Homo sapiens: one gene and its partners. The protein of the gene in region 3 purifies or fractionates together with the protein of the main gene of each other region. This does not show direct contact. Each region holds a gene or a part of one and is shown on either strand. Other genes may lie near its edges.

The links.
Region 1: the proteins of UPF3A (region 3) and PARN purify together in Homo sapiens (affinity purification with western blotting, with the first as the bait; one study listed by BioGRID). This does not show direct contact.
Region 2: the proteins of UPF3A (region 3) and XRN1 purify together in Homo sapiens (affinity purification with western blotting, with the first as the bait; one study listed by BioGRID). This does not show direct contact.
Region 4: the proteins of UPF3A (region 3) and EXOSC10 purify together in Homo sapiens (affinity purification with western blotting, with the first as the bait; one study listed by BioGRID). This does not show direct contact.

The regions. Positions count from the first base shown.
Region 1 is NC_000016.10:14,573,860-14,581,912, reverse strand, and holds part of PARN (poly(A)-specific ribonuclease PARN), read left to right. Parts: intron 1-969; coding exon 970-1,039; intron 1,040-5,636; coding exon of another isoform or gene 5,637-5,655; exon of another isoform or gene 5,656-5,834; intron 5,835-8,053. UniProt on the Homo sapiens protein: 3'-exoribonuclease that has a preference for poly(A) tails of mRNAs, thereby efficiently degrading poly(A) tails.
Region 2 is NC_000003.12:142,306,778-142,314,294, forward strand, and holds part of XRN1 (5'-3' exoribonuclease 1), read right to left. Parts: intron 6,398-7,517; coding exon of another isoform or gene 6,359-6,397; intron 5,982-6,358; coding exon 5,821-5,981; intron 5,037-5,820; coding exon 4,734-5,036; 3' UTR 1-4,733. UniProt on the Homo sapiens protein: Major 5'-3' exoribonuclease involved in mRNA decay. Required for the 5'-3'-processing of the G4 tetraplex-containing DNA and RNA substrates. The kinetic of hydrolysis is faster for G4 RNA tetraplex than for G4 DNA tetraplex and monomeric RNA tetraplex.
Region 3 is NC_000013.11:114,286,467-114,294,519, reverse strand, and holds part of UPF3A (regulator of nonsense transcripts 3A), read right to left. Parts: intron 8,002-8,053; coding exon 7,891-8,001; intron 7,782-7,890; coding exon of another isoform or gene 7,765-7,781; exon of another isoform or gene 7,208-7,764; coding exon of another isoform or gene 6,984-7,207; exon of another isoform or gene 6,734-6,983; intron 3,032-6,733; coding exon 2,976-3,031; intron 2,920-2,975; coding exon of another isoform or gene 2,887-2,919; coding exon 2,728-2,886; intron 2,722-2,727; exon of another isoform or gene 1,936-2,721; intron 1,850-1,935; exon of another isoform or gene 799-1,849; intron 1-798. UniProt on the Homo sapiens protein: Involved in nonsense-mediated decay (NMD) of mRNAs containing premature stop codons by associating with the nuclear exon junction complex (EJC) and serving as link between the EJC core and NMD machinery.
Region 4 is NC_000001.11:11,063,909-11,071,213, forward strand, and holds the end of EXOSC10 (exosome complex component 10), read right to left. Parts: intron 7,081-7,305; coding exon of another isoform or gene 7,066-7,080; coding exon 6,992-7,065; intron 5,823-6,991; coding exon 5,651-5,822; intron 4,799-5,650; coding exon 4,737-4,798; intron 4,177-4,736; coding exon 4,100-4,176; intron 2,841-4,099; coding exon 2,810-2,840; 3' UTR 2,710-2,809; downstream 1-2,709. UniProt on the Homo sapiens protein: Catalytic component of the RNA exosome complex which has 3'->5' exoribonuclease activity and participates in a multitude of cellular RNA processing and degradation events.

The DNA of each region.
Region 1 (8,053 bases), on a different chromosome or scaffold from region 3:
CTTTTTTAAGAGTCAGGGTCTCACTCTGTCACCCAGGCTGGAAGTACAGTGGTTCAATCATAGCTTACTGCAACGCTGAACTCCTGGGCTCAGCCTCCCAAGTAGCTGGGACTACTGGTGTGCATCACTGTGCCTGGCTAACTTTTTAATTTTTTTATAGAGACAGGGTCTTGCTGTGTTAACCAGGCTGATCTAGAATTTCTGGGCTCAAGTGATCCTCCTACCTCAGCCTCCCAAAGTGCTGGAATTACAGGCTTGAGCCACCGCACCCAGCCTCCTGACCCTTCTTATAAGGGCACTAATTCCCTCGTGACTTAATTACCTCCCAAAGGTCTCACTTCCAAATACCATCGTACTGGGGAGGCTTCAACATATGAATTTTAGGGGGACACAAACATTGAACCTATAGCACTACCATTTCCTTGGGATCCACTCACCCAATTAAAAGTGGGAGGGTTTTGAGGTAGGAGTGGGAGGAGATGAGGGGAGGAGGAAATCTGCAAGAAAAACCACTGACACTTGCTGTGGTATGGTACTTGGTGCGTAAGAATACCTTTCACAGGCCGGGCGCAGTGGCTTACTCCTGTAATCCCAGCACTTTAGGAGGCTGAGGTGGGTGGATCACCTGAGGTTAGGAGTTTGAGACCAGCCTGACCAACATGGAAAAACCCTGTCTCCACTAAAAATACAAAATTAGCTGGGCATGGTGGCACATGTCTGTAATCCCTGGTCCTCGGGAGGCTGAGGCAGGACAATCACTTGAATCTGGGAGGTGGAAGTTTCAGTGAACCGAGATTGCGCCATTGCACTCCAGCCTGGGCAACAAGAGTGAAACTCTGACTCAAAAAAAAAAGAATACCTTTCACACTTGTTGAACCATGCTGTTAATTTAAATCTGTTTTGGTCTGAACTTTCAGGCTTGGTCTATGTGACTATGAATAATAATACCTCTCTTCTTTTCTTCATTAGGTTCTTTTCTCAGCCCTCCAAAAATTCATGTGTCTGCCAGATCAAAACTCATTGAACCTTTTTTTAACAAGTAAGTAATCAGAGAGTTCCAGTTTCCAAGTTCTCTCACTGTGGAACAGCCTCATATCTTGGGATGTCAGTTTGGAGTTATTGGGAGCTATAACACATTTTTAGATAAGCTGTTTTTCATCTCGAGTGACTCACATGTTTTTTGAAAGTAGAAAGTGACCTTTTGGGGAACAAATGTATTAAAAATATAGGCTTAAAAAAAAAAAAGAAAACATTGCTAGACGTAGTATAGTAGATCTCTTCCAAGAAAAAGAACTGGTAGTTCTGGCATTTAAATTTCCTATGAGGGGCCGGGTGTGGTGGCTCACACCTGTAATCCCAGCACTTTGGGAGGCTGAGGTGGGCAGAGTGCTTGAGGTCAGGAGTTCGAGGCCAGCCTGGCCAACATGATGAAACTCGTCTCTATTAAAAATACAAAAATTAGCCAGGCGTGGTGGCATGTGCCTGTAATCCCAGCTACTCGGGAGGCTGTAGTGGGAGAATTGCTTCAACCCAGGTGGCAGAGGTTGCAGTGAGCTGAGATTGCACCACTGCACTGCAGCCTGGGCAACACAGCAAAACTCTGTCTGAAAAAAAAAAACAAAAAAAACAAAAGAAAATTTCCTGGCCAGGCGCGGTGGCTCACGCCTGTAATCCCCCAACTTTGGGAGACTGAGGCAGGCGGATCATGAAGTCAGGAGATTGAGACCATCCTGGCTAACACGGTGAAACCCCATCTCTACTAAAAATACAAAAAATTAGCCGGCACGGTGGCGGGCGCCTGTAGAAAACATGATTTTCTTAGCTCTTTTATTTTTTGGGGCAGTGTTTGTCTTTGGAAATGTAGCCTTTGCTGTAGACCATGGAACCCACAGGTGATTGATGTTAAATATAGTTCTTTTTTTTTTTTTTTGAGATGGTGTCTCACTCTGTCACCCAGGCTGCAATGTGGAGTGCAGTGGCACAATCTCAGCTCACGGCAATGTCTGCCTCCTGGGTTCAAGCAGTCCTCCTGCTGCAGCCTATGGAGTAGCTGGAACTACAGGCATGTACCACCACACCTGGCTAATCTTTATATTTTTAGTAGAGATGGTGTTTCACCATGCTGAATAGGCTTCTCTCGAACTCCCTGACCTCAGGTTATCTGCCCACCTCAGCCTCCCAAAGTGCTGGGATTACAGGTGTGAACCACCGTGGCCAGCTAAATATAGGTCCAATTATGATTGTTCCCTTACATTTTTATGTACTTGATGTTAAATTCATTGTTCTGCAGTATTTTTCAACTGAGAGATGTTGACTCATTTGTATTATTATTATTATTTTTTTGAGTCACGGTCTTGCTCTTTTTTCCATGCTGGAGTGCAGTGGCATGATCTTGGCTCACTGCAGCCTCCACCTCCTGAGCTCAAGTGACCCTTCCACCTCAGTCTCTTGAGTAGTCATTTGTAAATATTTACACGCTGTAAATATTAAAACAGTAATCCTGCTTCTCCACTAAAGTCAGCTCCTTATAAAATCAGATGTTGGATGCAAACTGGGTTAGATGTGGGCTGCATCTAGTTTATCAGTCATGTATGTGACCAACATGCAGAGCAATCAAAATAAACTTTGATTAAAAAGCTTAGCTGGGCTGGGTATAGTGGCTTACGCCTGTAATCCCAGCACTTTGGGAGAACAAGGCGGGCAGATCACTCGAGGTCAGGAGTTCGAGACCAGCCTGGCCAGCATGGTGAAAACCGGTCTGTACTAAAAGTACAAAAATTAGCCTGTATTCCCAGCTACTCGGGAGGCTAAGGCAGGAGAATCGCTTGAAACCAGGAGGCGGAAGCTGCAGTGAGCCAAGATCACACCACTGCACTCCAGCCTGGGCAACAGAGTGAGACTCCCTCTCAAAAAAAAAAAGAAAAAAAAGCTAGCTGAGACTTTCTGTATTTCTAGATCAATCTAATATTGCTAATACTGTGCAGGACTATTATTGAAAAGAACTAGACAGTAAATGTGTAGGCTTATTTTGAATTGGGACATCTGTCCATTCAGAATTTTTTTGTAAAACCTAGATGCATACCAAGAGTAGTTGAATAGGAGGTGGGATTTGGGAATCCTTCTGTGATTATTTTTTTGGTCTATTTTTTTCCAATCTGTAAAGGAAGAATATTTTCTTCATCATTAAAGGAAAAATATTCCTGCAAGATTTGAAATACAAAATAAGAACTGTGTTTTTTTTCTTTCTTTTTTTTTTGAGATGTTGTTTCACTCTTGTTGCCCAGGCTGGAGTGCAATGGCGTGATCTCGGCTCACCGCAACCTCTGCCTCTCGGGTTCAAGTGATTCTCCTGTCTCAGCCTCCCAAGTAGCTGGGATTACAGGCAAGTGCCACCATGCCCGGCCATTTTTTTGTATTTTTAGTAGAGATGGGGTTTCTCCATGTTGGTCAGGCTGGTCTCGAACTCCTGACCTCAGGTGATCCACCCGCCTCGGCCTCCCAGAGTGCTGGAGTTACAGACGTTAGTCACCGCGCCTAGCCAAGAACTGTTTTTATTCCTCTTTTTTTTTTTTTTTTTTTTTGGTGAGACAGAGTCTCACTCTGTCACTTAGGCTGGAGTGCAGTGGCGTGATCTCAGCTCACTGCAACCTCCACCTCCTAGGTTCAAGTGATTCTCCTGCCTCAGCCTCCTGAGTAGCTGGGACTACAGGCTCGTACCACCACGCCCTGCTAATTTTTGTATTTTTAGTAGAGACAGGGTTTCACCATGTTGGCCAGGCTGGTCTCAAACTCCTGACCTCAGGTGATCCACCTGCCTTGGCCTCCCAAAGTGTTGGGATTACAGGCGTGAGCCACCATGCATGGCCTGTTTTTATTATTATTTATTGGAATAACTTGGTTAAGTATAGGCATTCATTCTTAACCCCCTTAGAAAGTGGGTTTTATGGCCAGATGCGTTGGCCTATGTCTGTAATCCCAGCACTTTGGGAGGCTGAGGCGGGCGGATCACCTGAGGTCAGGAGTTCAAGACCAGCCTGGCCAACATGGCGAAACCCTGTCTCTACTACAAATACAAAAAGTAGCTGAGCGTGTTGATGGGTGCCTGTAATCCCAGCTACTGGGGGGGCTGAGGCAGGAGAATTGCTTGAACCCAGGAGGCAGAGGTTGCAGTGAGCCGAGATTGCGCCACTGCATTCCAGCCTGGGCAACAAGAGTGAGACTCTATCTCAAAAATAAATAAATAAATGTAAGTAAGTAAGTAAGTAAAGTGGGTTTTCTGGACCAGGTGCCGTGGCTCATGCCTGTAATCCCACCACTTTGTGAAGGTGAGGAAGGAGGGTTGCTTGAGCCCAGGAGTTTGAGAGCAGCCTGGACAATGTGGCAAAACCCAGTCTATACAAAAAATACAAAAATTAGGTGGGTGTAGGGGCAGACACCTGTAGTCCCAGCTACTCGGGAGGCTGAGGCAGGAGGATCACTTGAGTCTGGGAAGAGGAGACCAAAAAGAAAAAAGAAGGAAAAACAATTGCTTCTTTTGACATCTCTTTCTATGTTAATACTGACCTTGTTTTTACTTACTTGCAGGTGATTTAGGATATTAAACCTTGATTTTTGTCATTTTTCATGGTTACCCTTGTAGAAAAACATTTGGTAGTTGCCCCCAACATTATCTCAAGCTGATGATTTTAGAAAAATATGCAAGATTTTCTGAAGATTAATTTATTTTGACACCAGTCTTTTCTAAATGTAACCTTTACCAAACATGCATACTCCTAACATAAATTTGGGTGGACATTAAACTGCCCACATATGCAAACAATATTTTATTTTGCTCTCACCAGACTTAACATTTAAAAAGTAAACCTCGAAGGGAAATAAACTTCACTTACGTCTGCATTATTCTAAATTAGCATTTAGTAGCATCAGTTATGCCATTTTGGGAAGCTTTATCAAGTCAACTATTGAGGAAATCCTGAGACCACTGTTGTTTAAGCAGTATGCAAAGACTGAATGTGATATGAGGTGTTTTTTTAAGCCATACTGGTCTAGAAGAATGTCCCATAAGGGTTTTGCATGGTGCCATTTTGTCTTTTTCATGGCCTGGGCACCTCCCATAGTCCTCCTTGCTTTTTTGGAATCAGGAGGAAAGTCATGAGAGAATTGAGCCATGGAAATCAGGATCACGCCACTGCTAATGACAGCCTGTGTGGAATGCACTCTGTTTATATTGGAGGCTGTCTCCTCAGCAAATGATTTACCTGCTTTTATAGCTTTGGTCAGTTTTAATCAATGCATTGAAAACCAAACTTAATGTTAAGATCCTTTGGTCAAATCCAGATCTAAAATCTAAGAGCTAAAAATGCTCTCTGCTTTTGCTTTTTATTGTACAACAGAAAGCACAAAATCAGACGTTTGCCTTATGTTTTGTTAACTGTCTTCGGTATTGTCAAGACACCTTGACCCTTTTATGAAGGTTTTCGGGAAGGTTGTTTTCTGTTTACCTCAGTTCTTAGAAAGAGGAAGAATAAGCAGGTCTCTTTTTTGGCTATCTTCAGTAAGCACTGGAATGTGAAAAGATGAGCTAGATGCCTGCAGTTTACTCTACAGGACTGCTTCCTTGTTTTGAATCTGAACAGGGTTCCGCTGGAAATCTAGGCCTTCCTGGAATGACACTGCTTTATGGTCTTTCTGAGCTACCGATGAGACAAGGAATGATATGCTCTTGGACAAATGTTTTCTCCTCTGTAAAATGGGGATAAAATGATTCACCTTCTGTATTGGTCCATTTTCATGCTGCTAATAAAGACACAACTAAGACAGGGCAATTTACAAAATAAAGAGGTTTATTGGACTTGTAGTTTCACGTGGCTGGGGAGGCCTCACAGTCATGGCAGAAGGTGAAAGCCACATCTCACATGGCAGCAGATGAGAAGAGAGCTTGTGCAGGGACACTCCCATTTTTAAAACCATCAGATCTTGTGAGATTCATTCACTATCACGAGAACAGTGCAGGAAAGACCTGCCCCATAATTGTATCACCTCCCACCGGGTTCCTCCTACGATATGTGGGAATTGTGGGAGTTAAAATTCAAGATGAGATTTGGGTGGGGACACAGCCAAACCATATAATTCCACCCTTGGCCCCTCCCACATCTCATGTCCTCAGAATTCAAAACCAGTCATGCCTTCCCAACAGTCCCCCAAAGTCTTATTTCAGCATTAACTTAAAAGTCCACAGTCCAAACTCTCATTTGAATCAAGGCAAGTCTCCCTTCCGCCTATGAGCCTGTAAAATCACAAGCAAGTTAGTTACTTCCTAGATACAATGGGGGTACAGGCTATGGATAAATACAGCCATTCCAAATGGGAGTAATTGGCTACAGGCTCTTATTACCTGTGTGATTTTGGGCAAGTTATGCAAGTCTGAAATCCAGCAGGGCAGTCAAATCTTAAAGCTCCAAAATGATCTCCTTTGACTCCATGTCTCACGTTCAGATTACGCTGATGCAGGAGGCGAGTTCCCATGGTCTTGGGCAGCTCTGCTCCTGTGGCTTTGCAGGGTTACAACCTCCCTCCTGGCTCCTTTCATGTGCTGGCATTGAGTGTCTGTGGCTTTTCCAGATGCATGGTGCAAGCTGTTGGTGGATCTGCCATTCTGCTGTCTGAAGGACAGTGGCCCTCTTCTCACAGCTCCACTAGGTGGTGCCCCAGTAGGGACTCTGTGTGGGGGTTCTGACCCCACATTTCCCTTCTGCACTGCCCTAGCAGAAGTTCTCCATGAGGGCCCCACCCCTGCAGCAGACTTCTTCCTGGGCATCCAGGCATGTCCATACATCTTCTGAAATCTAGGTAGAGGTCCCCAAACCTCAATTCTTGACTTCTGTGTGCCCACAGGCTCAATGCTGCATGGAAGTTGCCAAGGCCTAGGGCTTCCACCCTCTGAAGCAACAGCCTGATCTGTACCTTGGCCACTTTTAGTCATGGCTGGAGCAGCTGGGATGCAGGGCTCCTGGGCCTGGCCTGTGAAACCATTTTTTCCTCCTAAACTTCTGGGCCTGTGATGGGAGGGCCTGCCTTGAAGACCTCTGACACGCCCTGGAGACATTTTCCCCATTGTCTTTGGCTCCTCATTACTTACGCAAATTTCTGCAGCCAGCTTAATTTCTCCTCAGAAAATGGGATTTTCTTTTCTTTTTTTTTGAGATGGGGTCTCACTCTCTTGCCCAGGCTGGAGTGCAGTGGCACAATCTCGGCTCACTGCAACCTCTGCCTCATGGGTTCAAGTGATTCTCCTGCCTCAGCCTCCTGAGTAGCTGGGATTACAGGTGTGCGCCACCACGCCCAGCTAATTTTTGTATTTTTAGTAGAGGTGGGATTTCACCATGTTGGTCAGGCTTGTCTCGAACTCCTGACCTCATGATCTGCCCACCTTGGCTTCCCAAAGTGCTGGGATTACAGGCATGAGCCACCATGCCCGGCCAGGATTTTCTTGTCTATCACATTGTCAGGTTTCAAATTTTCCAAACTTTTGTGCTCTACTTCCCTCATAAAACTGAATGCCTTTAACAGCACTCAGGTCACCTCTTGAATGCTTTGCTGCTTAGAAATTTCTTCTGCCAGATACCCTAAATTATTTCTCTCAAGCTCAAAGTTCTACAAATCTCTATGGCAAGGGCAAAATGCTGCCAGTGTCTGCTAAAACATAACAAGGGTCACCTTTGCTCCAGTTCCCAAAAAGTTTCTCATCTCCATCTGAGACCATCTCAGCCTTGATTTCATTATCCATATCATTACCAGCATTTTGGTCAAAACCATTCAACAAGTCTCTAGGGAGTTCCAAACTTTCCCACATTTTTCTGTCTTCTTCTGAGCCCTCCAAACTGTTCCGGCCTCTGCCTGTTACCCAGTTTCAAAGTCACTTTCACATTTTTTGATAGCTTTTCAGCAGCCCCCTCTCCCGCCCCAGTACCAATTTACTGTATTAGTCTATTTTCATGCTGCTGATAAAGACATACCTGAGACTGGGCAATTTACAAAAGAAAGAGGTTTATTG
Region 2 (7,517 bases), on a different chromosome or scaffold from region 3:
GTCCATTCCAATGCAAGTTTAAAACACTTTAATTGGCAGACAATGTAAAGATATTTAAAATCAAAAATTACAAAATGAGCACATAAAAGTCTTCCCTTTTGAATTTTTAATAAAATACTTCTCTGTATAAGATCTAATGAAAAATTCCAGTTACTTATAAAATAGTTGAGAAATCAATTAAGATATGTATCTATATATGTATGAATTACACTTTTGTTTAAATGAACAAAATGTTGAACACTTCAATGACAGCACAGCATCTATTACTCACATTAAACTAGATGAAAATACTCAAAGAAGCAGTTGGATACAGGCAAAAGAAAATATGATACTTAAAGCCAAAAGACAAAAAAATCCAAAAAACGAAAACAACCTCCCCATCCCCCACCAAACCCTTAACTGTAAGGGAAAGAAAGGAAGAGAGAACTTAAAGCTAACTATGGACCAAATTCTCATTCTTTTTAATGAGAAACAGCATGAGAATTTGGCTTCAAATTACTAAAACAGCTACAGAAACCTATTTGGCCTGGACAATTTAATAGTATACCAACTGCTGAAACAACCAAGTGCAGTTGGTGTACGGCTGGAGGGAAAAAAAAAAAGACTTTTTACAGGTTTAACTTTGTAAAAAAATGTATCTTTTGGAAACCATAGTCTCCTTCACAAATTGCACTTGAGATGGCTGAATGCATTGATTGAGCAAGGCATTATTATTTGTTCACTGACACACACACAAAAGCAGCTACAGATAGTTGACATTTTGGACTACTAAAACTATTTTATACATGTTTTTCTTCTTTAAGAAAAGGATCTATGATGTCTGTGAAACTTAACGGCCTGTCTGCTCTGCCATGTTTCTGGAGACTTGATGCTGGTTCAACACTATCTCTTACTGTATTGGAGAAGTTTGATGGAAATATGAATAAAGTCAGTCCGAACGACATTAATTTCTGGAATTTTAAGCTTTATCTTGACTAGGAAAGGAAGCTCCTGCAAAACTGATGGTTTCACTGACAAAGCTTACAAAATGTATATACTGAGCACTGCCAGTTTGAGTACTATAATTTATCTCTAGAAAAATGACAAATGAACTTCTGCAATTGATTTTTAAAGACAGAGAACGACTTTCACAGCCACTTCTCTACAATAAATTAATTGTCTTCTACAGTAAAAACAAAATTTGGAAGCAACATGATACCAAGAAATACAGCAAGCTCATAAGGCTGAGAAATTGTACAGTTGCTTTAAAAAACTGTGCTCTAAATAATGGGAAGAAGCGTGACAGAACTAACTTGAGTGAAGATCTGCACAGCTCTATCTCATATAATAAAAGTAAAAATTAGACAACCACTATAAACAGTTATGACTAACACAAATAGAACACATAAATAAAAAGTGAGTAAAAAAGACCTTACAGTTTATCTATTTCCTTGTGCTAGAAAGATACGGTATAGTCCAAAAATGCAGTGACTGGGTATGTCTTATTTAACTGTTTTTCTTCTTCCATCTGCCTCCCTCTCTCTGCCTCCTCTCATTAAAACCAAGAATCTAGCTTAGTTTGGAAGTAGCAGTCTAAAATGAAAGCAGGTACCTGATCATAGAAAGAAACAATAAAAAAACTTGCATCAATAGTTCTTCATTCCTCCACCAATCGGGAAAAAAACCCTTCAATCTTTATTAGTTACCCCTTTGAAAAGCAAGAAAAATCTTAAATTGAAACCAAGGTTCAGTAGAGGTGACTTTAATTTTTTTCTGCAACTACAACTGAGTCTTAGATGTTTAAGACTTTAGTCTACATGATGTTTAAATCAATTAATACATTCAAATTCTAACGCTGAGGTAATTATTAGGTAATGCAGGAAAATGTGAAAAGGAACGAGACTGGAAGGAGCAATCTTCAAAATTCACTTAAGTTGCTCAAAAAAGAAAAAACTTATTGAATAGAAATATTTAGAAATAATGTTTCAGTTAGGAGACAAAGGCTTAAATAGATTGAAGTGCTCTAGTTATGTGGAAGCATAAAGCAATTTGGGGAATCTGTCCTATGCCCTAAACAGTCCACCATTTTCACAAAAAGTCCTCAGAAGATTCAAGTTGAATGAGCATATTTTTAAACTTTGGGGGTGGTCTTAGTCCACCCCATCTCAAAGAGAGAATTTTAAATTTCTTGAAGTCCAACTGCTTTTCAGATATACTCTAAATTCCAGGTCTATCAACAGATTGTTTCCTCAACATGGGGCAGAAATGGCCTCTGCTTCTTACATCCTCCATAGGGAGGGCACATCTCCCATTGACCTCAGGCCCACATTTAGAATGGGTCTACAGGGGGAAAAGAATAGAGAATGCCTGACCACTATCCAGCCATTATGGAGCTCTCTCCTATCTTAATCTCTTCTCAGTTTTGACCTTTAGAATAATAATGTTAAAAAAAAAGTAAGGATAATAAAACTTTTTTCTTTTTTTTGAGACAGAGTCTTGCTCTGCTCTCCAGGCTGGAGTGCAGTGGTGCAATCTCGGCTCACTGCAGACTCTGCCTCGCGGGTTCAAATGATTCTCATGCCTCAGCCTCCCGAGTAGCTGGGACTAAAGGCATGTGCCATCACGCCCGGCTAATTTTTGTATTTTTAGTAGAGACAGGGCTTCATCATGTTGGCCAGGCTTGTCTGGAACTCCGGACCTCAAGTGATCCGCCTGCCTTAGCCTCCCGAAGTGCTGGGATTTGAGCCACTGCGCCTGGCTGGAAAATAAAACTCTTTCACTGCCTATCTGTATAGAACTGTCAGCTTGCTGTGCTCAAATATTGGTCAAGTATCCTTATGGGTTTAGTGCACTATGTCTACTGAAATTTCCCTTTGGAGTTTTCAGAAGATGGCAGGTGCCGCTTCTTCTATGCTCTAAAACAGATGTGAGCTGCATGCTATTTATATAACTGTCACACAGGAGTAATGAGTGAGGCAAATTCTCAATGCTGGAGTTTGTACAGCTGAGGTGAAACATTTCACACTTTAAAGTAGGAAGAGGTTAATATAACATTACTGTCACAATTTAACTTTTCTTTGTATTACCATAATAGATGTTTCCTTTAAAAACAAAGAGAGAGTTTATGAGGCAATAATTATACACATTGAGGATTTACTTGAGCCTCATTACTCAAGATCCCACTACAGATAAAGAAACAATGTTGGGAACTGATAAACATCTGAACTTATGAAAATAACAGAAAATAAAATCATGGAAACTTATACGACTATGATAAATGACAGATAATGAATATTTCTCTCTTATACTGAAGGCACTGCTAATACACAAATATCCTGCTAACATTTAAACTCTGAAATCAGCAGTTAGTGAAAGGAGTCCATTTAGTTTAATACCAGCATTTTAAAAAACAAGTAAGACTACTTTAAGAGTCATGGCAGAGTTTCCAATGAGTTACATGAAAATCAGATATAACAAGCTGCTCCATATAAAGATTGTGGTTCCTACTTTTAAAAAAGTATGCTATAACTTACTTCCTTAAAAATATAAGCATATCACAAAAACTAAAGAATAAATATATATATATATATAAACATAGGCCCTGCTGAGAAATCGTCATAAATTCTAAAATAATTTCAACAGTTACAGCTTGAACCACACATTCACATATGACATGCAAAGAGAGAATCCCAGCATCATTGAACAGTTCAGCATAAAGCTAAAAATATAGAATCAGAATGAAATAGGCAGTAAATAATGTATGTCACAAACTGATGACTGTGCCTCCTATATTGTAGCACACCTTGGAACTTAAACAACAATTAGAATTTCTTCAGTCCCAAGAAGCACTACATACCGACCAACTATGAAGCTCTCATAAAATGTCAGGTAAGCAAATAAAAAGCTATACAAAATAATACAGTTTATTAATTAACATGACTAATATTTCATATTTTATTTTGTTAGAAGATTAATTTGTAATCATTGTACCCTGTAGATTTTGAAACAATTTTACTAGAAATTACTAATGCTGGTTCTTGAGTAACCTAAAAAATTGTATTTACTCAAATTTAGAATGCTATTTATAGTTCTAAGCAGTTAGATGAAATATTCTGATTATTCTAAAGTTGCTTTGGTACAAAATTTAGAATAAAGCAAAACTGGCAGCACCACAACAAATGTGATCCTTTCACAGCAGGTCTAAAGACCCTCAGAGGCAACAAAGCATAAGTTAAAACACACATAAATAAGAGCCATTCTCCTGACAATTTTCTTACATCATTAAAAAGAGAAATAAAATCCACATTCAGTAAGTTATACTGGAGGCCCAAATTTCATGCTCCATGTAATTATTCCTCAATGATAGTGTAAAAAATGCTTATTATTGCTAACTGATGTCTAATTCATAGTTCAGGATGCTTCAATCATGAGGCCAATGATTAGAGTGGTACATTTTAATGTTTAGTCCACTGATACTGTGATATTATTTTAATGCAAGGTTTAATTTAGTTTTTTATTACAGATTTATTGAGGTATAATTGACATACAACAAACTGCACATACTTAAAGTGCACAATTTGATACACAGTCTTTTAAACAGCATGAAAAGTGCCTGATAACTTAAAAATGAAAAAAATTTCAATTTACACATATTATTTTAAAATAGTACATTCTAATTTTTATGAGACATAGATATGTATTTATAAAAAGGTAGATGGAAAGAGAAGAAATTAACTTAATTCTAAGAGCCAAATTTACTCAGAAGGTTTAGAAACACCAAAATTAACAGCCAGTTTTCTTGATTTTCTTCTTGAAGAAGAGATTGGTGTTGACTTATGGTGAGATATACTATGGCCTTGAGAGGCAGTTTCAACTTGAAAAGAAGATGCAGGTTGAGCAATCGGAGAGGACTTCAAAGAAGCTGATGAGCTCTCCCGTGGACTTACTTTGACAATGTTGGAAGAATCTGGCTGGCTAGTCTGAACTGGAGTGGCTTGAGAACTCTGGGCTTCCTTATTCTCAAAGTTCTTTTTGTTTGCAACCCTTTTTTTAGTAACCTGTTAGGAATAAAAGCATCACTAATTAATAATGTAGGCAAAAAATTAGCTAGTGTTGGAAATTACCATAAACCATGCATGCTGTTAATATTTGTCAATCACAGCTGATCTGTGACTTCCACTTATAATTGCCAAGTAAGACTTTAGTAATTCAAAGGACTTAGTTACAAACAAAATATTTAAAATTCTTGGGCTGTGTGCAGTGGCTCACAACTGTAATATCAGCACTTTGGGAGGCCGAGGCAGGTGGATCGGTAGAGACCTAGGGTTCGAGACCATGGCAAAACCCCATCTCTACAAAAAAATTACAAAAACTAGACAGGCATGGTGGCACATGCCTGTAGCCTCAGGTACTCGGGAGTCTAAGATGGGAGGATCACTTGAGCCCAGGAAGTCAAGGCTGCAGGGAGTCGAGATTGTGCATGGGCTGCGTTCCAGCCTGGGCTACAGAGTGAGATCCTTCTCCAAAAAAATGAATAATAATAATAATAATAAAAATACAATTCTTCATAGGTTATTTTGAAAATATTTGTGATTTTATTTATATTACTGATTTTAATCAATCTGTATTAGAATAGCATATTACTTGGTACAATTATTGTTTATTAGAACACAAACTCAGAGAGCAGAGACAGGTCAGACTTGTCAACCATTGCCTTCTTACTACCCACACTAGTACTGAACTTCTAGTTGGCACTGAATAAGTAAACTGAATAAAAAAATGTTTATCAATAGTCTTTCAGCATTAAACAAATAATTATCTTAAAAATATTATTTTTCTTACCTGCAGAGGTATAAACTGATTGTGCACACCCCCTGGTATTCCCCCAGCCATGGGCATGGTCCCAGAATATAAAGTATGATGGAAGGGCTTCCCAGGAACTGGCACCGATGGTCCCCATGGCATTGAGCCAAAGAGATGAGACGACGAAGGCATTATATTAGCTGTTAAAAACCAAGGAAAATTTTTCTTTTAGTAAAATGGTATCATCAAAGCTCTGAAATTTGAGACCTCCTTCTGCTAGCCTTTTTGGGCTTTTTTTTTCCCCTTTGGCAAAAGGCCTACACTTACTTCACCTATAATTACTCTTCCTTACAACATTCAACCTCAGGATCCTTTCCTAGGACTGTGTGGACTATCTACACAAATGAATTTATCATTATACTGGCCTGAAAAGGAGAATACTACTACTAATATCATATGCTGATACAAGTTTTAGGAATATTTGCAATTATATTTATAAAAAAAATAAAAGGGTCATGAAATTGTCCCTTGTGAGAGAAAAGCTTGGGCACAAATAGAGAAATCTTAAGGATCTCACCTGCCCCCAATGCATAGTTGCTTCCATAGTGATCCCAGCCTACAAAAAAACCAAAAAACCTCAAGTCCTGAAATCTCATCACCTTCATATGACAGGTAGAATCTTTCTTTTCTCTATTTTAATATTTGAAGTCAAGGCCTTTTTTCACTTACAGTTTGTTTATTAAAAATGTAATGAACCAATGGGTGCCAAATCTAATTTGTATATCTGAATCACTTGAGGAGTTTGTGAAATACAGATTCCTGGACAGGGCCTCAGACCTAGTAAGCCAGACTCTGAGGGGCCCTGGAGTTTGTATTAAGCTCCATAGGCGATTCTTATGGAGACAGCCTGTACCAGTAGAGCATTTGAAAACTACATTAAACAGTGACATTCAAGGCACCAGCACACGCCACTGAAGAAGATATGCACTATGTTCAAATATTCTTTTCATAGAGATAAAAAGCAGCCAGACCTGTAAAACAGTATAGCTTAATTAAAGTTCAGCTATTTAAGACACTTTTAGGTTAGGAGAGAAGAATCATAATATATTTCAGTGTTATGAAATACACATACACAAATTCTAAGAAGAAGAAAACTTTTAATATGAAAAACACTAATAAGATTCAGAAAATTAGGCGAGGCGCAGTGGCTCATGCCTGTAATCCCAGCACTTTGGGATGCCAGGCATGGCACGTGGCTGTGGTCCCAGCTACTCAGGAGGCTAATGTGTGAGGATTGCTTGAGCCTGGGAGGTGGAGGTTGCAGTGAGCCAAGATCATGTCACTGCACTTTAACTTGGTTGACAGAGTGAGACCTAAGAAAAGTAGAAAATTAGGTCTTGAAACTATCTACGAGCAACTTTGGTGGGAGTCATAATGCTAAGAAGGTCTATTTAAAAGATGCTATGCTAATCTTATACAATGGTCAACTCCGTAATTTCCCCAATAAATCACTGTTACAAATATGAAATACATATTCCTCAACTGGGACATTTTACATCACAAATTTTTTTATACCATAAAATAGAAATTTACAAAATAACTTTAAAATGTTAATCTAATGCTTAAGTTGTTCTCTGCTGATTAACCTCCAAATATCTTGGCATTTATGTATTTACATATTTTAACTGGAATATTTGGAGAACACCTTTATAGGACCAAAAGCATTCCAATTATAA
Region 3 (8,053 bases):
CCCAGCAGTGGGAGGATCACTTCAGCCCAGGAGTTCAAGACCAGCCTGGACAACATAGTGAGACCCCCACTTCTACAAATTTTTTTTTAAATTAGCTATTCAGGTATGATGTTGCACCCCTGTAATGGGAGGCTGAGGCGGGAGGATCACTTGAGCCTGGGAGGTAGAGGCTGCAGTGAGCTGTGACTGTGCCACTACACTCCAGCCTGGGTGACACATTGAGACCCTGTCTCAAACCCCCCCCCCACCAAAACCAAACAAAAAAATAGCAAAATAGCCATGAGCCATCTGTCTTTCTTTAAGCTGTTGATACACCTTCTTTTGCATTTCTCCACAGATTCCATTTTTCAGGCATTAAAAGAATTTCAATTTTCCACATGATTTAGAAGTGAAAGACCCCCATACTGAGCACAGATACTTATTAAAAGCTAAACCAGGCCAGGCATGGTGGCTCACGCCTGTAATCCCCAAACTTTGGGAGGGTGAGGCAGGAAGATCACTTGAGTCCAAGAGTACGAGACCAGCCTGGGCAATATAGTGGGAACCCCATCTCTACAAAAAACAGAAACAGGGTCTCTCTCTGTTGCCCAGGCTGGTCTTGACCTCCTGGGCTAGAGCAATCCACCTGCCCTGGTCTCCCAAAGTCCTGAGATTATAGGAATGAGCCATCATACCCAGCCAACTTTTCTGTTTTTGACTGCTGACCATATCAGAAACAAATCTATGGTTCAATGATCTCTTCCCCACCCTTTCCTAAGCTATCTTCTTTCCCCAAGTCCTGACATTTCATTTTTTTCCTCATATTGTACAATATTATTGAATATAAGGTATTCAATAAATAATAAGTAATGAGTGATACCTTAGGTTCAAATCTAGGTTTAGTACTGAGGAGATAATGGCTGGTCCCAATTCTGGCCAACACATTTCACACAGAGAAAAATTCCCTCTATGTATTAAACCACCCTCATAAATGAATGTATCAGTCACAGAAAAAACTCAGCAAGAAATACAGAAACTCATTAGTGCTACTGCCAAAGAAATGATAAAACCCGGTTCTGAGTCAGCCTTCACACAGAAAGGCAAAACCAGTGGTTTTCAAATGTGTATTTTTTAATCAGGGAAACTTTTTTTTTTTTAAGACAGAGTCTTGCTCTGTTGCCCAGGCTGGAGTGCAGTGGCGCGATCCCGGCTCGCTGCAACCTCCGCCTCCTGGGTTCAAGTGATTCTCCTGCCTCAGCCTCCTGAGTAGCTGGGATTCCAGGCACACGCCACCACGTCCGGCTCATTTTTGTGTTTTTAGTAGAGATGGGGTTTCCCCATATTGGCCAAGCTGGTCTCAAACTCCTGAACTCAAGTAATCCGCCTGCCTCGGTCTCCCAAAGTGCTGAGATTATAGGTGTCAGCCACCCCACCCGGCCAGGAAATTTTTTTTTTTTTTTTTTTTTTTTGAGAGGGAGTCTTGCTCTGTCGCCCAGGCTGGAGTGCAATGGCGCGATCTCGGCTCACTGCAACCTCTGCTCCCTGGGTTCAAGCGATTCTCCTGCCTCAGCCTCCTGAGTAGCTGGGATTAAGGCGTCCGCCACCACACCTGGCTAATTTTTGTATTTTTAGTAGAGACAGGGTTTCACCATGTTAGTCAGGGTGATCTCGAACTCCTGACCTCGTGATCTGCCCGCCTCAGCCTCCCAAAGTGCTGGGAGGAAAACTTTTTTTTAAAGGAAAATGTAGAGGGTGGAGAATGGGAGGAGGGTGAAGACTGAAAAACATCAGGTACTGTGCTGATTACCTGGGCAACAAAATTATCTGCACACCAAACCCCAGTGACACTTGATTTACCCATGTGACACACCTGCACGTGTACGCCTTGAGCCGAAAATGAACACGTAACACACCTGCACGTGTACGCCTTGAACCGAAAATGAACACGTAACACACCTGCACGTGTACGCCTTGAGCCGAAAATGAACACGTAACACACCTGCACGTGTACGCCTTGAACCGAAAATAAACATGTGGCACACCTGCACGTGTACGCCTTGAGCCGAAAATGAACACGTAACACACCTGCACGTGTACGCCTTGAACCGAAAATGAACATGTGGCACACCTGCACGTGTAAGCCTTGAGCCGAAAATGAACACGTAACACACCTGCACGTGTACGCCTTGAGCCGAAAATGAACATGTGACACATCTGCACGTGTACGCCTTGAGTCGAAAATGAACACGTAACACACCTGCACGTGTACGCCTTGAGCTGAAAATGAACATGTGACACATCTGCACGTGTACGCCTTGAGTCGAAAATGAACACGTAACACACCTGCACGTGTACGCGTTGAGCTGACAATGAACATGTAACACACCTGCACATGTACGCCTTGAGCCGAAAATGAAAGTTGGAAAGTTTAAAAAAAAAAAAAAAAAAAAGAGCGTCAGCAGCAGCCCAACGTGTGCCAGCGTGGGGCTCCTGTGGGGTGTGCTCCCCACTGCACACCCAGGAGGACAGGCACCCAACAGCAGCCTGAGGACTCCCAGGGCTCAGGACGCACTGTGATAACCACTGCTGTAGGATGGAAAGAAAGATGGAAAAGATGGAAAAAAATAACAACACAATATTAGATTAATTCAGAATGTTTTCAAAATTCTAAAGAACTAAGATATGTAAAAAGTGTAATTACTATAGCAGAGCTATTTTTGGAAAAAGGAAATGTTTCCTCAGAATTACCTTAATCCTTACTTCTTTCTCTGCAATTTTCTTCTGTTTATCTGTCTCTTTTTTTTTGCATCTTTCTTCTTCTCTTCTTCTTCTTTTTTCCTCTTCCCGCAAACGTTTCTTTTCTAACTCTCTCCTCCTCCGTTCTTCTCGCTTCTCTTCTCGAATTCTCTAAAGACATGGAAGAGCGTGTGTATAAACTGCCTGGATGAGAATGGCAGAAGCAGGGAGGGTGTTCATCAGGTAAAGGCCAGACCTACCTGCTTTTCTAATTTTCTATTTTTAATATATTCCAAAAGAGGTGTGGTTCTTCTAGCTAAAACACAAAAATTGTAATATTGTATTTAACTCCTAAAGAAAGATGTATTTTAAATACTTGTTTTGAATGTAATCTTTAAAATAAATACGGGAACCATATCATTACTTTTTAAATTTACACACTGTCTCCAGGGGAGTTTTTATTCCATTACTGTCAGGTCAAGTAATTTGAAAGTATCAACAATTTCATACATAGTAGACATCTAATTCCTGATTCTTAAGGGAGGCTTAAAATATTCCAAGATGATATTTTTGTAGGTGCCTTAAATCATTAAATAACATATATTTATTTTGATACATCGCATATTCTGAGAACTTTTTCGTTTTCCGTTCTCCAAGCAACAGTTTTAAAATAACATGGATTCTTGTAATGTCTTACAATATATACTCCATAAAATCCCAATGATAAGACATACAACTCTGGATTGTAGTTTAGAAAATGACTCCACATGGGCCGGGCGTGGTGGCTCACACATGTAATCTCAGCACTTTGGGAGGCCAAGGCGGGCAGATCACCTTAGATTGGGAATTCGAGACCAGCCTGACCAACCTAAGGAAACCCCGTCTCTACTGAAAAAATACAAAATTAGCCGGGCGTGATGGCACGCGCCTATAATCCCAGCTACTCGGGAGGCTGAGGCAGGAAAACTACTTGAACACGGGAGGAGGAGGTTGCAGTGAGCCGAGATTGCGCCACTGCACTCCAGCCTGGGCAACAACAGCGAAACTCTGCCTCAAAAAAAAAAAAAAAAGAAAAAAAAGAAAAGAAAAAGAAAATGACTCCATATGGCGCTGCTGATTGCAGAAAAGGCACCAACTACTAGGGAATGAACATTTCTACAGACTCTATCTTGGTCCTTCGCTTTCATGCCCGACCTCTCAGATCTGACCTGGATGTGGGTGCCCAGGCAAGCTAGAGGCCCCACAGGCCCCACCTCAGAGGGACTTGCGCTGACATGGACAGGCCCCACATCCCACCAACACAAGGACACAAATGGGAAGGGGGAAGACGGGGTCTACTCTGTGGGTCTGTAAGATCTCAGACTAAACAGGGCTGGGAAGAATCCCTGGATGTACCTGAAAACTGACACATCATCTCTGGAATTCTGAGGACCAGGAATGAATCAGGAATCATAGGAGAAGCCCTGGCCAGGGATCCATCACTTGGAACTGAGAACCCCTGACACCCTGACATCATAGATGAAATGGCACCTGTCCCAGAAGCCCTTCCCCAGGGACAGTCTGTGGTTGTAGGGAAGAGCCGATTGTCCCAGGAGCCCTGCCCCAGGCACAGTGGTTGTAGGGAAGAGCTGATGCAGGTACAAATGCCACATTTCGTGGCAGACACAGTTGCCACAGAGAACACTCCCCCAGGGGTCCCTGGGCTGACCATGAACTCTGGCTCAGGGTGAGTACAGCACACTGGCTCAGGTAAATGGTCAGCTCTTTGTAATGGGCAAATTATCTCAAATCAGCCAGGGTTCTGCTCTGCTCTGTGGAAAGCCTGAACTTGTCAGCCAGGAGCCGGGCGAGACCACCTGGATGTGTGGGGAGGCTGACCCCAGACTCCGCTTGCCCACCTTCCTCTTCCTATAAAATGTCTGCCCTATCACCCACAGGGATCACGGGCAAAGTACGTTAGACCCTGAATAAGAAAGTGTTCTACACATCATAAAAGTATGTTATTTATCAGACAGAATACGCACAACCATGCAACAGAACACAAGTAAACAGAAGTCTCAGAGCTGAACCCAGGCCTGTCTGCTCTAAAGGCCGATGCTAAAGGCCGATGCACCAGACTAACTCAACAACTCCAGAGTCCTTGCCAGAAACAGCTTATTAGTATTTCCATTTAACACTTGCTTCTCAGACCTGTGCAGAAGAATCCACTGGAGGCCAAAAGCTTAGAAAAGAAAAAGGTAATCTGCCATGAATTGCCTAAAATTTTTTTTTTTTTTTTTTTTGAGATGGAGTCTTACTTTGTCGCCAGGCTGGAGTGCAGTGGCGTGGTCTTGGCTCACTGTAACCTCCGCCTGCCGAGTTCAAGCGATTCTCCTGCCTCAGCCTCCCAAGTAGCTGGGACTACAGGCGCATGCTACCACGCCCAGCTAATTTTTGTATTTTTAGTAAAAACGGGGTTTCACCATGTTGGCCAGAAAGGTCTCAATCTCTTGACCTCATGATCTGCCCGCCTCAGCCTCCTAAAATGCTGGGATTACAGGTGTGAGCCACCGCACCCGGCCAAGTTTCAATTTTTCATACATAGAAACAGCAATCACAGAAACAAGGAAGACTCTACAGCCAAGTCCTGGAATGAATTAATCGCTCCCATCAGGGATGGTGGGTTCTAAGCCACATTCATTCATTCATTCAGCCAACTTTTGTGAAGCATTGGCTGTGCAGCAGACTCTCGGGGAGGTGCCAGGACATGCCCCCCTCTCCCCACCCCGGCAGGAGCCACGTGTCTGCCCCAAAAAGGTATGTCTCAAAACAGCCCTAAAGTGACCGATCCTTTGCAAGGGGACATTTAAAACAAAGTGAGATGGAAATGGGAGGGGCAGGGAGATGAGGCCTGTAATAACGTCTAATTTGCTGCTTCTAGCTCTTCTTCAATTTATCAAGTTCTTAAGTGAAATCTCGACTTTGCCCCCAATACTGTCCTACCCTCATGTTCCCTTGTGTATAATGGTGCCACAATCCACCCATCTGTTCAAGCCAAGCACTGGAGTCTTAATTCTTCCTGTCCCCTTACCTCCCACACCCTATCCGTCTGTCGGTCCTGTCCAGCCCACCTCCAAAACACACGCTCATCTCTTGGCATCCACAGTCTATCCCATGTGACACCACCAAAGTGACGGGGACAAATAATCAGACCATGCTACTCCCCCAGTGGCTTCCAGTTGCCCTGGAATGAATCTAAATGTCTTGCAGTGCCCTGAACCTCCAACCACGCTGCCCTCACCCATGTGTGCCAACCCCACAAGCCTGCACTCTGCGCCTGCAGTGAAAAGCGACAGCAGCCGGCCCTGCCCCTGGCGCTTCCTTCCTCCACTGCTCAGCACGGCCAGGCTCAGCTCATCTCCTGACCTCTTTCCCTCCCGCAGCCAGTCTCAGCTCCAGCTCCACCACTATCTTGGAGGGAGTCTCCCAACCTCTTTCCCTCCCATATTCCACTTTGTCACATCAGTGGCAGTGATTACACACTGAGGTGCCCTGGTTGGACTATTCCTGCTCCTGCTTCCAACCTGTCATCCCGATGGTAGGCAGAGGCCTTGTGCAACCTGCTTACCACTTGGCCCCATGCTGAGGCCCAGAGTCAGTGCCCAGGCAGCATGCAGCCTCAGCATATTTTGTTTACTTTAGTGATCAAAAGCCTTATTACGGCTAGGTGTGGTGGCTCACGCCTGTAATCCCAGTACTTTGGGAGGCTGAGGCAGGCGGATCATCTGAGATCAGGAGTTCAAGACCAGCCTGGCCAACATGGTGAAACCCATCTCCACAAAAATATAAAAATTAGCTGGGCATGATGGCGGGTGCCTGTAATCCCAGCTACTCAGGAGGCTGAGGCAGAAGAATGGCCTGAACTGGGAAGGCAGAGGTTGCAGTGAGCCGAGATTGTGCCACCGCACTCCAGCCTGGGCAACAGAGTGGGGGGAAAAAAAGCTTTATTACTAGATAAATGAAGAAAGTGAACGGACTATTTCAGTAATATTAATCTTTTTTTATTAATTCAATCAACATCTACTAAATTCCTGAACTTTTCTACAACCATGAAGATGAAAATATAGTTCCACTGGGGAGACAAAACAAGAAGGGAGTTTATGTGGTGGGAGACAGACAGGAAAATAAATGATAAACAATGTGGCTGTCATGTCACATCAATTTTATTGGTTTTTTGAGATGGAGTCTCGCTCTGTCACCAGGCTGGAGTGCAGTGGTGCGATCTCAGCTCACTGCAACCTCCGCCTTCTGGGTTCAAGCGATTCTCCTGCCTCAGCCTCCTCAGTAGCTGGAACTATAGGCACGCACCACCATGCCCTGCTAATTTTTTGTATCTTTAGTAGAGATGGGGTTTCACCATGTCGGCCAGGCTGATCTCGAAGTCCTGACCTTGTGATCCGCCCACCCTGGCCTCCCAAAGTACATCCATCTTGATGGGTGGGCAGGGCACAGCCTGGGCGGGAGAGATGAGAGGTGAAGAACCAGGGCTTTGAGGAAAGGAGATCCACAGAGAAGAGAAACACTACCAGGTGTGTCTGGGACTAAACAACAACAGTTTGCCTGATTTTCATGTTGGTGCTACTGGGAAGTATGTTGGTGCTACTGGGAAGTAACTATTTCTAAAGTACACCACTTGTGGGCATGGGGTGGAAGGCTGGATTTAAACTCGATTCTGTGCTCTGGCTGGGCTTATCCACAAGTTGGCCTGGCTCGGGGAGCCTGGCATTTGTGTTGAAGCAGCAAGATGACCTCACCGCAAGCAAAACATCTCATTCCTATGGGCTCTTGAGGCATCCGTCTGTGACCACTGACTTCAACTATGTGACACAACATGCCTTCCCTGACGCTCAGGAACAGACCATTCATGTGTCTTCTGCACTGCTCATTCGGAAGCATCATAACTTAAAATGATCTTAACTAAAAAAATCACGTGCTCTCCATCAACCAACGCTCAGAAATATTTTCCCATGCTGCCATCTTGCCATTCTTTTGTCAAAACTGGAAATCACTCTACATTTCTGTCAAGCCTGTAACAAGTTTCAACTTGTTATCACAGTCAAGAAAAAGAGAAAAAACGTATATCCTCTACGAGTAAATCTCTCAATAAAGAAAAGAGAAGAAATGAGCAAAACAGACCAATGAGCTCTCTTGTCTTCGCCTCCATCTCCCCCAGCAGAGTCTCAGGGTTGGCACTGGTCTTCTCTTCCTCCACACAGTAGGTTTCTAAAAACTTCTTATATTCTGGATCTAGACATTAAAAAGTAGGAAGAAAATAAATATAATCTTTCCCAACTACGGG
Region 4 (7,305 bases), on a different chromosome or scaffold from region 3:
TCATGCCATTGCACTCCAGCCTGAACGCCAGAGGGAGACTCTGCCTCAAAAAACAAACAAACCAACAAACAAACAAACAGAAAAACATTGTCACACAGACAAAACCAATATGGAAAACTTCCAAAGAAAGGGTGCGGCATCACTTTAACGGGTGAGCACAGCGGCCCTGGCAGCCTCCAGGCTCTAGGTGGCACTGGATTCTTTCTGACAAGTCCTCATCTGGGCTGTCAGAGACCTCCGCTTTGAGCTGCGCTGCCATAGAGCTCTCTGGAAGTCCCTTGCTCCTCAGGGTCCAGTCCGAATGCGCCTTTCACGAGGCCTCTCAGGCCATCCTCAGGAGAAAATAATTTCTCACTTTGGCCAGGCGTCGTGGCTCACGCCTTGCAATCCCAGCACTTTGGAAGGCTGAGGTGGGCGGATCACTTGAGGTCAGGAGTTCAAGACCAGTCTGGCCAACATGGTACAACCCCGTCTCCACTAATTAGCTGGGTGTGGTGGTGGGCGCCTGTAATCCCAGCTACGTGGGAGGCTGAGGCAGGAGAATTGCTTGAACCCGAGAGGCAGAGGTTGCAGTGAGCTGAGATCGTACCACTGCACTCCAGCCTGGGTGACAAGAGCGAGACTGTCTCAAAAAAAAAAAAAAAAAAAAAATTCCACCTGTGAGGCCGGGCACAGTGGCTCACGCCTGTAATCCCAGCACTTTGGGAGGCTGAGGTGAGTGGATCACCTGAGGTCAGGAGTTCGAGACCAGCCTGACCAACATGGTGAAACCTTGTCTGTACTTAAAAATACAAAAATAAGCCGGGCGTGATGGCAGGCGCCTGTAATCCCAACTCCTTGGGAGGCTGAGGCAGGACAACTGCTTGAATCCAGGAGGTGGAGGTTGCAGTGAGCCGAGATTGTGCCGTGCCATTGCACTTCAGCCTGGGCAACAAGAGCGAAACTCCGTCTCAGGAAAAAAAAAAAAAAAAAATTCCGCTTGTCAATTTTTTATAGCAGAGACTGCCATTTTTAGGCAGTGACTGTTCTTTGTCCTTCGATGTCTGTTCTTCCCAAATTCTATAGTAGAACCCTGGGCTTTTAGTTGGACACACGGATGACTGAAATAATGATATTTCCTAGTACCCCTTGCTGTGGTCTTGTGACTAAGTTCTGACCAATGGGAAGTTGAAATGGGCAGTATCCTATTCAAAGAGATTGGGTGCTGTTCTTTCCTCCTTCCAGCAGACTGGAATGAGAATGTAATGGCTGGAGCAAGGGCAGTCACCCTGCACCATGAGGCGGCAGCCTTGTGTTTGAGCTGAGGATGGTAAAACAAGATAGGAGCCTGTGTCTGATGATCATGAGCATCACACTAGCTCTGGGCCAACTATGTTTACAAAAGAGGAGGAAAATCATCTCTCTTGTTAAAAGTCACTATAGTTTGGCTTTTCTGTCATTTTCAACCAGTCTAGTCCTAGCTAAAACAAACTCCAGCCTATCTTAGGACAGGGCTGTTCTCTGCTGTTCAAGAGTGGGAGCTCTCTGACGGCAGTGATGTGTGATTTGGCTTGGTACCCCCCAAAGGTTATCATATACAGTTGGCAATCTCAATACTTTGTGGGATGAATTTCAAAGAAAAAAGGTTTCTAGGTTAAGTATTTGTAAAAACCAAAGTAATGGCATTTTGTGCTTTCCTGATTTATTAGCCCATCTCAGGATTAAAATAAAATGAAGTTCTAAAGAAATTATCAGAGACTGGGTCACAAATTTATATAAAAGTTTAGTGAGTGCTGCATTATTAAGAATAGTACCAAAAATGAAAACCTAAGCGTTTAACAATGGGGGTTGGCGAAAATAAATTTTAGATTGAGAAAAGTGTCATAACACAAACTTTCAAGGTGACAAATGATAGAAACCTGAACCCAAGATATATTTTAAAAATATATCTATATACACATAGCGAAAGCTTATAAGGAAATACAGCAAAATGTTAATCTCAGCTGGGTGTGGTGGCTCATGCCTGAAATCCCAACACTGGCAGGACAAGACAGGAGGATTGCTTGAGGCCAGGAGTTCAAGACCAGCCTGGGCAACACAGCAAGACCCCATCTCTATAAAACATAAGAAAAATTACCCAGGTGTGGTGGCATGTGCCTGGGAGGTCAAGGCTGCAGTGAGCTAGGATCACACTACTGCACTCCAGAATGGGCAACAGAGTGAGACCCTGTCTCAAAAAAAGGAAAAAAGCATCTTTGTGTGACAGGACTACAAATGATTAAAATTTTCTCTTTGCATTTGCCTTTTTTTTTGAGACAGAGTCTTGCTCTACTGCCCAGGCTCAAATGAGGTGGCGTGATCTCGGCTCACTGCAACCTCCGCCTCCTAGGTTCAAGCGATTCTCCTGCCTCAGCCTCCTGAGTAGCTGGGATTACAGGCGTCCACCACCATGCCCGGCTAATTTTTTGTATTTTTAGTAGAGAAAGGCTTTCACCGTGTTGGCCAGCATGGTCTCGATCTCCTGACCTCGTGATCCGCCTGCCTCAGCCTCCCAAAGTGCTGGGATTGCAGGCGTGAGCCACCGCACCCGGCCGGCTCTGGATTTTTCTAGAAGTCACCATAACCCCCGGAGCACACTCACCTGCCCACAGACAGCTGAAGATGGTTGCCTGAACAGGATGGCAACCTGCCAGAGCTGTGGCGGCAACAAAATAAAAGTCAGGAATCAGCTTTCTTCAGGAAGAATTTTAATGGTTTAAAAATATGTATGTACAAAAGCAGCACCAGCATTTGGTGCTTCCGGTCCACAGGCGCCACGTGTCTTCCAGGACTATCTCTGTGGCCAGTTGTACCTGAAGCCTCTGCAGAGAGTACAAAAACAACAGTTATTTCTTCCGGGCTGGTTGGATGTTCTCAGATGGTTTACAAAATGGTGCAAATCTTAATCATGCAGAACAGAGGAAGAATGGTTTGCTCAGGGGCCCCAGAGAACTCGGCGGCCCACCAGAGTTGGCTGAGCTGAGCAGCATCTTGAGAAGGCAGACCTGTTTTTCCTGCCCTCGGGCAAGTCCCCTGACCTCAGGGTCGGCTTAATTATTAGGATTTTATGTTTTTAACAAAAACATTTGGCTGGGTGCAGTGGCTCACACCTGTAATCCCAGTACTCTGGGAGGCCAAGGCGGGAGGATCAATTGAGGCCAGGAGTTTGAGACCAGCCTGGCCAACATGGCAAAACCCCATCTCTACTAAAAATACAAAAACAGGCCGGGCGCGGTGGCTCACGCCTGTAACCCCAGCACTGTGGGAGGCCGAGGCGGGCGGATCACAAGGTCAGGAGATCGAGACCATCCTGGCTAACATGGTGAAACCCCGTCTCTACTAAAAAATACAAAAAATTAGCCGGGCATCATGGCGGGCGCCTGTGGTCCCAGCTACTCGAGAGGCTGAGGCAGGAGAATGGCGTGAACCCGGGAGGCGCAGCTTGCAGTGAGCAGAGATCGTGCCACTGCACTCCAGCCTGGGCGACAGACCGAGACTCCATCTCAAAGAAGAAAAAAAAAAAAAACATTAGCCGGGCATGATGGCAGGCACCTGTAATCCCAGCTACTCGGGAGGCTGAGGTGAGAGACTTGCTTGAACCCAGGAGGTGGAGGTTGCAGTGAGCTGAGATTGTGCCACTGCACTCCAGCCTGGGTGACAGAATGAGACTCTCACAAAACAAAACCAAACCAAGCCAAACCACTCTTCAACAACAAGGATAACCCACATGTGCTTACTTTTTCCTCATTCCTAATAGGCTGGTCCAGGAAAATTTCACAACTATTTACACCTATTTTCCCTGAGGTGACCCCAGGACACACGGTAACTAGAGAGCCAGGAACAAGGGGAATCTGAGTCCTGGGGTGCAGTGCCTGGCTCTGTGATGTATGGCACAGAGCAAATCACCTCCCGCCCTTGTTTTCCGAGTGGCGTGAGGGACCTGGCTGTGGGAGGTTCTCTGAGTCATCCTGGTTGAAGACCCCTGGACACTCGCTCCCCAGCTACTCCCCACGGACCACACCACGCAGGGCAGGTGCTTTCTCACTGGGCTCCCTGGGCCACACCGCCGTCCACCACATACCTGTCTGACTTTCCAGTTGGAAAGGACATGCTTTTGTTTCCCACCGACTGTTTAATTTTTTTGGCTGCAATGCATTTCTGAAAAGAAAAGAAACCGTTTAAGCTGGGTGGGCACCTTGACCACAAGATACACAGAAAAACACACCTGAGCTCAGGTGGCCAAAGATTCTAGCAGCACAGGAGTGACTTTAGATCCCCTGAGAGAGGATGTTTCTGTGTCTCTGAAGGCAAGGCCGCCAGGATGCGCTGCAAGAGGAACAGGAGCACCCCAAAGCAGCCCTGCCCCCGCGCCTGTGGAAGCTACAGCCACGCTGTTTCCCTGGCACCAGCACCAACACCCACGAGGGGTGAATGCAGGCTTGTGCTGGCCCCAAAGGGGGTGCTTTTGGCCTGCAGCTATAGTTCCCATGGTAGCAAACACAGAATAATACCCTTTAAAGCCACATGCCAGCTTTTACAGCCTCGTTTTATGAGTTGCTGGGGTAGCTGATCAGTACTGTCTGCCCTTGGGAAGAAATGAGGTGAGGAAAAAGATATGCAAAGGAATGGACTCCTGGATGGGCCTGTCTTCTCAGCAGAGGAGGAGGTCAGAAACAGGCGCCACCAGCGTGCTAAAATCCTCCAGGAGCAGTTCTTACCTTGCCAGACGGGGTCTGTTTATTTGGATCAAACTGAGAAGAAACTTTGGATTTGCTGTTTCCTGAAAGGTAAGAGATGAGAGAGACCTGCGGTCAGGTCAATGAGTTACCACACATCACAGGCTCACAGCGAGGCCGGGACCATGACACTCAGGGAAGCCTTGGCTGTGAGAGCACCCCTGTCACGATGAGGGGCTAGGGCTCATGGCTCACATAAATGAATACATAGCGATCCTGGTCCCTGTGGGCAGTCTGAAAACCAGGCCCATTTCTCTCAGCTCTAGTCCCAGGACCTTAGGGGCAGGTGGCTACAGCAGTGGCCCCCGCACATAAGGAAATCCATTCTGATCTCTGTGCTGGGTGATGCCATAAGGAACTCGGGCTCTGAGGCGACACTCCTGTATAAAGGGCCATTGTGTGGACTGGCCTCTGCTTTCTCTTTTCCAAAGGAGCATGTTGCTCCGAAGGCTGCTAGAGTCGAGAATGCCATCTGTAGCCCCTTCAAAGCAGACGGACTCTCACAGCCCAAGCAGCCATAGGGGTTCATGTCATAGGCTTTGAGATTTTTCAACAAACAAAATTCTGTGTGTGTGTGTGTGTGAGAGAGAGAGAGAGGGTTTATGGGCACAAGTTATAGTGAGGAAGGATGGCGCCCTGGTCACAGTGGAAGTGACAGGTGATCTTGCTAACCCACCATGGAGGCCACCATGAGTTGAGCTCCCATGGAGGAGGTGGTAATGAGGCTGCAGGCGACTGTCCACATTGCCACGGCCTCTCTGGACTACTCCAACAATTCCTGGCTAGCACCATGCCTTGTGCAGGACTCACTTGGCCCCTATATTGTGGTCTCTTTATGGCTTCCTCCCCTCTGACGCGCACAGATGTCCCTGTATGGGGCCCCATTACTTCCTCACCAGCAAAAGCCTTGAAGTCTGACTGGCTGTAGTCGTAAGGCGTAAACTCTTTTTCTGGTGGCTCTGGGTCCTTTGGCTTCTTGGAAATTTTGAGTCGTTTCTTCTCTTGTTTCTGTTCTGTGGTCCTTGGGTCGCTTGTTGCTCGCTCTCTCTTCTTTGCAGCATTTTCTAGCTGTAGATCAGGAACAGATGTGGGGGAGGAACAGGGAGGCACATGGGAACAGGGAACTCCACCGGCCTCAGCAATAGCTGGGACCCAGCTGCCTAAGTGGTAAGAAGAACAGTCAGTGGTGGGGAGAGGAGCTGTGGCTGGAACTTCGGGACCAACACTCAGGGTCAGCTGAAACAAATTCCTCACTGGACAATGACATGAGGTCATTTAAGAAAGGCAAGCAGGCCAGGTGCAGTGGCTCATGCCTATAATTCCAGTGCTTTGGGCGGCCTAGGTGGGAGGACTGCTTTAGGCAGTCTGAGACCAGCCTGGGCAACATAGCAAGACCCCTATCTCTACAAAAAAAAAGAAACAAATGTAGCTGGGCATGGTGGTGCGTGCTTGTAGTCCTAGCTACTTGGGAGGCTGAGGTGGGAGGATCACTTGAACCCAGGAGTACAAGGCTGCAATGAGCTATAATTGCACCACTGTACTCCAGCCTGGGCATCAGGGTAAGAGTAAGACCATGTCACTATTTTTTTTTTAAAAGGAAATTAAAAAAAAAAAAAAAAAAAAGGAAAGGCAGGGGGCAGGGGTTAAGAATTCGAGTGATAGCCTGGGCAATATAGTGAGACCCCGTCTCCACCAAAAACAATAACAAAAAATAGCTGGGAATGGTGGTGTGTGCCTGTGGTCTAGCTACTTGGGTGGTTGAGGAGGGAGGATCGTTTGAGCCCAAGAGTTTGAGGCTGTAGTGAGCTGCAACTGTGCCACTGCACTCCAGCCTGTGCAACAGAGGTAGACACTACTTCAAAAAAAAAAAAAAAAAAAAAAGAGTTCCAGAGTGCTCTGGGGTTTCATTCTCTAGAATGCAACATTTTTGTAGGACACAGCAGGACACACAACAAGCTTCAGCACTGTAACCTCAATACCTTTTCTACTACTACAGTTGAGTGGTCTGGCATATTTACCATAAACACAGTGGAAGAAGGTTAAGAGGAATTACAATATCAATCTTGTGGAGGTTTCGGAAATGAGGTAGACACTAATAGCCAAGCTAAGGTGAACCGGAAAGAAGTCAGGACTTAATATAAAGCACAGGGCAAGCCCCCTAAGATATCCAAGGAAGATCCTGACCACAAGCAGGGGCATCGTTTTTCAAAGGAAAAAGGAGAAAAGCTGGCACATACCACGACCTGCTGTCGGACGGAGATGGCCTGTTCTGCTGCAGCTTTGCACGCCTCCTTTGCCTGTTCCCGGGCAGCTGCAAGGGAGAGAACTTGTCTCTGGAGTTGGTGAATCCAGCAACCACCCTCCCCTCCATCTCCATCCCCCTCCGACTTGGCCTAGCCACAGGGGTTGTCACGGCTGATTCCTCCTCCCTCTCAGGTCCCCGGTCCCCCATCTCTGCAGGACAGGCTGCCTCAGAGCTCAGGCTCAGGTGCTCTGCCCACCTTCAGCTACACGTGAGCTGATCCTCCCCAGCCCTGCCTGCTCCTCTTCT